Regions from separate parts of the Homo sapiens genome. Here region 2 is linked to region 1. Evidence: fine-mapped QTL for protein levels in blood plasma. Region 1 holds a variant in brackets. A gene starts in the other region. All regions are shown on one strand. Distances are from middle to middle.

Region 1 (2,896 bases):
CATTCCCTTCTCCTGCTGATAGCAGTCAGCTTGAGGAGGATGACGGAAGGCAGCCTCAGACAGGAATTAAGGCAATGCCCAGGCGGGCCTGGGCACTGTATTCTGAGCAAGGGCCTGGGCCCAGGAGCCAGCCAGGGATGAGTGCCATCATGGCTCTCCACTCAGACTGTGCCTGGCCCCTGCACTTACAACTTCCTGCCGCTCTGTGGCCTTGCCCTGTAATCACTCAGTGCCCTTAGCTAGCCTGACTAAGTCCCAGATCCCCTACAGCTTCCTTCGGTGTGGTATCTTTTGCCACATCCAGGGCGAGGGTTGAGGCAAACCAGCCCTCCCTCTGACTTCCTTGTCACTGCAGCCAGCTTTGCTGCACTTGCTGGTGCACAGGAGCCTCCTGTTTGGGCCTGGGTCTGGGCATGGGGAGGCCGTGCCTCAAAGCCCACCCTACCCCATGCCTTGGTGCTGTGCCTCAGGCTCCTTCCTGGTCTGGCCCAGCTGGCTTCCCCAGCCCCTCAGCCATCCAGGGCTACCCACTGCTTACTCAGGGACCAGGCAGCCCCCATGGCAGTAAAAGCAGCCTAGACAGAACCTGCAGCTCTGTGGAAAGAGGCAAAGTCCTGAAAAGGCAAAGGGTTGTCACTTAGGGCAGCTTCTCCAACTTTAACATGCATCCAAGTCACCTGGGAATGTTGTTAAAATCAGGAGATCTGGGGTGGGGCCTAGGACTCTGCATTTCTTACAGATTCCCAGGTGAGCTGATGCTGGTGGTTAAGGGTAGCAAATCTCTAAAGCACGAAGCCCTCACAAATCTTTGCCATTTCCCAAACACTCCGCTCCATGGTCTCCAGTCATCAGAGCAACTCTACCTGGTATTATCATCCCCATTTTACAGATAATGACACTGAGGCTCAGAAAGGTTGAGGATAAGCCCACTTTCCTGTCATTAGTGGCAGCCCCAGATCCAGACCTAGGCCTCCTGGCACCCAGTCCACTGGCAGTGGAATTGCTTTCCTGAGAATCATTCTGAGGCTGGGCTATTGCTTCTCCCTTGCTTCAAAGAATCTAGCAGCGGGGGATAGGATTTTGCAACAAAAAGCTGACCCAGAGGCCATACAGAGCAGGAATATCCCATTGCCCCCTCCTCCACTGGGTTCAGAGGGTAAGAAAGCACCCTCCAATAAACCCAGGCTCCAGGCCGTGGGGGCTGCTGAAGGCTCTTTCCCCGCAAGGGCCAGGTGTTGACACCTTAAAGCTGGCTGCGCCCCCAGCCCCACTCTTGGCTGTGCTGGCCAGGTGACTCCTAGTTCTTGGCCACATCATCAGAAAGTCAAAGGTCTCACTCCAGGTTTGGGGCTCCTTCCTTCCACTCCCCTCCCTGCCAGAGTCTGTCTTGGCCAGTGCCAGCCTCGATGCTTTGGTTTTGACCCCACCTGATCCTCCTTTCCTCATGCAGCACAAGTGCTCACCGGGGCCAGAGCCAGGGCATGGATATGACAAGCAGGGCAGCCTGGACACTGCCCTCACAGGACAGCGCCAATAACAATACAGTGTCTGAGTATCTCCAGGGGATGATTTCTGGCTCTTTGTCTCCAATCAGTCCCACTCCCTCCTGAGGTCCCCAAGGGCAGTATTCAGAGAGGTTTCCTGC[G/A]TTTTATTTCTATTTGGTATACCCTCCACTGTTGTCCACTGCCCTGTGTGGCCTTCTGGTTGACCTCTGCCCGATCTTCTGTCTCTCTGAGGGAATCAGAGTCCAGCATCCAGCCCCAGCTGGAACAGCTGAAGTCACAAGCCTCCTCTAAGCCAAGGCCAGTGTGTTCAGAGGTGACTGCCACCCATACTAGGACAAACACAGCTCAGATCACCAGGTCAAGCACCTAGGCCTGGCTTCTCCTGAGACAGAGGACTCAGAAGTGGCCTTTCCTCCAAAGCCTGCTCAGACACAGGTCTGTAGGGCCAGGGTGTTCTGCTTGGCTGGGCTGCAGCTGCTACCCCTCGGTTGGGGCTGAGTCAGCCAGATCCTCCCCCTACTTCTCCCCAAGGGCCAAGAACTGCTCAGGGACATTAAAGGTCAAAAGTCCAGCCACACTCATTCATCCTTTCCCCAGGCCCATGAAGAGAGGCATCTCATTGTAGAATGTATGAGGAAGTGGGAAGTATCTCAGAGAATCAGCTAAGTTTCCTAACTTGTCCATCCAAATGTGATCACCACGATTCAACAATTTGGGGCATTGCTGATCTAGCCGTTCCTAGTGGGGCTTGCTCAAGGTTGCACAGCGAGTCAGTAGAAGCCCTGGCTGGCCCCACTTGGTACCAATCCACCAGGCAGCTCAGGGCTCCTGCCCAGCCCAGCAGCTTCTGTTGTCTAACGTATGGCAGGCAGACTGGGAGCAGGAAAACAGAGGGCCCCAAAGCCCAAGGCACCAGAAGGTTTGTTTCAGTTTGCTGAAGCTGATTTGTAATGATTGGCACTCTTCAGCCAGGGGAGTGGGTAGGCCATAGCCAAGGATCGATTCCCCAACCACAGCAAAGGCAACACTCTTCCTCCAGAGATCACCAAGCCCCTCTTACCTCCCTCCCTCCTTCCCAAGGCTGGCACTAACCAGGTACCACATTCATTGTTAAGGAATGGCTGATGACTGCTACACGTGTTGGGAACCTGGTTGGGGCTGTGCAGTTTGGGCTGGAAGGAGAGATGCCAGCCCTCGTGCTGCCTCTGGTCCCTGAAGTGTCACCTCTCTCAGGACCTCTCCTCTGGCCTGTGGGGTTATAAGTGATGGATAGCAGAAAGGGAGAACTGACTCCTGTCCCAAATAGCTCCTCTGCCACCTGTCCTGCAGTGGGCCTGTGTGGGTTATGATTCTAGATCCTAGACAGAGGCTGGGTCAGCTGTGGATGGGGT
Region 2 (2,896 bases), 40 Mb after region 1:
TTTCTGGAAGGCGCCCAGGTTTACCCAAAGAGCACAGTTAAGTGCTGAATTTCAACTAGCTCTGGAGTCACCCTGTTTGGGGCCTCATTCTGGAAACCCGAAGTCCAGCGGCAGCTTTCCTCCACATCAGGACAGAGAGTGGGGTTTGGGAGCGGACGAGGGAGCGGGAGTGGACGAGGGAGCAGGAGTGGGGCTCAACGACGACCCAGGCGCTCAAGGGGAAGGGGCTGAGAGCGTTTCTTCGCTGTGCGGCTGCAATAGAAACTTTTTCCTCGTACTATCTGACTCCGGGACTGGACTGTGAGGTCTGCAACAGCTGGTGGGGTTCGGGTGGGGAACACACTCTAAGCCCAGCGCCAGGGCTGGAGCCGTGGGTGGAGCCGCTGCAGCCCTGGGCCGGGGGCGTCAGGAAACTCGAGACTGGGGCGCGGGGAGGCCCCGGCCAGAGCGCCCGCTCTCCCGCGTCCCGGGCGGGGTCCTCACCTGTTCCAGCGGGCCACCTTCCTCCGGTAATACCGCAGCGCCTCCTGGCTGGCCAGGAGCGAGTCCTCGGCTCCCAGGAGAGGCGGCTCCTCCGGGACGTTGTACAGCGGGTGGGCGAAGAGGGCCTGCAACTTGGAGCTCGACCCGCTGTGGCTGCCGCCAGCCGGTTCAGTCCGGGGCTCGGTTCGGGAAAAGTTGTGCACGATCGTGCCGGGGTCCGAGGCAGCTGCGGCCGAGTCCCGCGCCAGGGAGGAGGCGCGGCCGGTGCACGGGCACCCCCGCGGGCGCTCCCGAGGCCGCAGCTGGCGCTGTACTTGGGGCCAGAGGTGGAAGTAGAGGTCGGCGGAGAGCAGCGCGCCCAGCAGCAGCAGAGTCAGTAGGCGGTCCCGGCGCAGCCCCGGCATGGCGTGCTGGCCAAGGGGGACGCCGGGGGCAGGCCGGCTGTCTCCGGGGTCCCGGGAGGGGTCGCGGGGTGCGGGCAGAAGAGGTGCCTGGAGTCCCGCGGGTGGGCCGGGGTCAGTGAGACCGGAATGCTCCCCGCGCGGGCTAGTCCCCTGTGGAGGGGTGTCGCTCCTCAACTTGGGGACCAGGTGCACGGAGCACCGGGGCTCTCGGAGTCAGCGGGCGTCGCTTCTCCGCGCCGAGTGAGCCGAGGGAATGGGGTTCCCGGGGTGCCCGCTTCTTGCGCCTTTTCTCCCGTGCGCCCGCCCGCCCGGACGCTCGCGGCAGGTGAAGGGCCCCGGGGCGCCGGCGCCGGCTGCCACCGCGGGCGGACGGGCGACGGGGCGGGGGGCGACCGCGGAGGGCGGACGGAGGCCGCCGGCTGCAAAGCCCGGGGCGTCTCTCCTGAGGATGCTGTCGCTCGGCGGCGGCTGCTAGTGCTCCCGCGACTCCTCCTGCGGGCGGCGGAGACGCCAGTGCCGGCGGCTGGCACGGGCGGCGCGAGTGGGGAGTTGGCGAAGCAGGAGCGGCTCCGGGGAGCTTGTCTGTGCGCCTGGACTCCTAGAGGCAGAGGTAGCGCGGGGCCTCCCCGAGCCTGGCCTGGCGCCGGCACCCCCACCCACTCTCCGCTGGCACCTGCCTCTGGCGCAGCTGACGGCCAACTCCCGATCCGAAGCCGGCGCTGCCCTTGCACCTTGTCACCCACCCACTGCCTGCGCCCTCCCCCTCGCTCGGGCCTCCCACTTTCCCTGCCCAGGTCTCAATCCAGTCACTTTAAGGGACTCACGCGAGGGGTCCGAAGCCTCTTTTTACCATTTCTATTATTTTTAGGGAAAAAAAAACCACCACAAGCCCCCTAAAACCCTTTTTTTCCTGTAAGCTTTGCCAAATGAGTGTGTGGGGGGGGGTGGGGGGAGGCGGGGGTGGCAGTGTTGGTATCTGTTCTTTCTTTGTGTTCCCTTCCACCTCCGCCCCCCTGCAGAGCGCAGGGCACATCAAGATTCATAACAACTACCTACCACATGCCTGGCACATAGTAGGTGCTCAGGAAACACGCTCTTGGTGAAGGAAAGAGCTTGACCTTTAAAAGTAAGGTATCAGTTTTACCTAGAATCTTGCTGATTTCCTGTTTGGAAGGAGTTTGATTCCAACTCTGCCTGTACTTTAAAAAGAGGAAATGTTTCTTGCACTCAGGGAGGGAGGGGCCCTGATGACCCCACTCCGAACTTTTGAGTTTAGCTTGGTGTGAAAGTAGTCCACCCAAATGAATCACTGGAGGACACATTTAGGCTTTCTCCAATATTCTGTGAGGTAATGTACCCTCCCCACACCCAGTTTTCCTTTTGAAGAAGAGGGAGGGAGTCCTGAACTCCTGGCTCCTCTATTTAATGACCCCATAGTATAGTAAAGTGAAGTCTGATTGGAGAGGCGGCCCCACCCTGCTGAATTTCAGGAAATCCACCAGAAGCTGCTTGCCCAGGCAGCAAAGCTTCCCATGTAAGTTAGTTCTACTCTTTAACCCCCTCCCTTCCCTTGCTGGAATTGAGAACCCTCAGACATACTTTGACTTGTGGGTTCAGACCAGAGTTCTTTTCCCCGTGGTTCAGTGTAAGATTTCTTCGGGACTTTGCAGTCTCCTCAAATGTAAATGAAGATAATGATGGAACCTACCTCCTAAGGTTATTATGAGACTTAAATGAATTGAAGTACAATTATGTGTCACGTCTGAGAAATGCATCCTTAGGCAATTTTCCTGTGTGTGTGAACATCAGGGTGTACTTACACAAACCTAGATGGTTCAGCCTACTACACACGGAGGCTACATGGCATAGCCTGTTGATCCTAGGTACAAACCTGTACAGCATGCGACTACTGAATGCTGTAGGGAGTTGTAACACAGTGGTGAGTACTTGTGTGTCTAAACATAGGAAACATACAGTAAAAATACAGTATTGTAATCTTATGGGACCAC

Direction of the effects. Alleles are on the strand shown, and positions count from the first base shown. The strength of an association depends on the size of the effect and on how common the allele is.
For the plasma level of the protein whose gene starts at base 1,588 in region 2, allele A in region 1 goes with a lower level than allele G (strong association).

What was found. PIP is the posterior inclusion probability: the model's chance that the variant is causal. Protein levels are from antibody-based Olink assays in UK Biobank. Linkage for the fine-mapping came from a reference panel and not from the study's own genotypes, which makes the PIPs less certain.
Region 2: it holds the start of FAM20A, and the variant in region 1 is fine-mapped to the plasma level of the FAM20A protein (UK Biobank, PIP above 0.99).

Annotation. Positions count from the first base shown.
Region 1 is chr17:28,396,604-28,399,499 of GRCh38, forward strand. SARM1 (sterile alpha and TIR motif containing 1) reads left to right here. Exons shown (of 9, transcript NM_015077.4): 9 at 1-2,896. SLC46A1 (solute carrier family 46 member 1) reads right to left here. Exons shown (of 5, transcript NM_080669.6): 5 at 1-2,896. Among named protein-coding and RNA genes, the nearest start is that of SLC46A1, 8.2 kb to the right of the region's middle. RefSeq lists enhancers at 445-1,128, 1,893-1,982. The variant G/A (reference allele first, on the strand shown) is at 1,646.
Region 2 is chr17:68,599,780-68,602,675 of GRCh38, forward strand. FAM20A (FAM20A golgi associated secretory pathway pseudokinase) reads right to left here and starts at 1,588. Exons shown (of 11, transcript NM_017565.4): 1 at 484-1,588. The coding sequence starts at 887.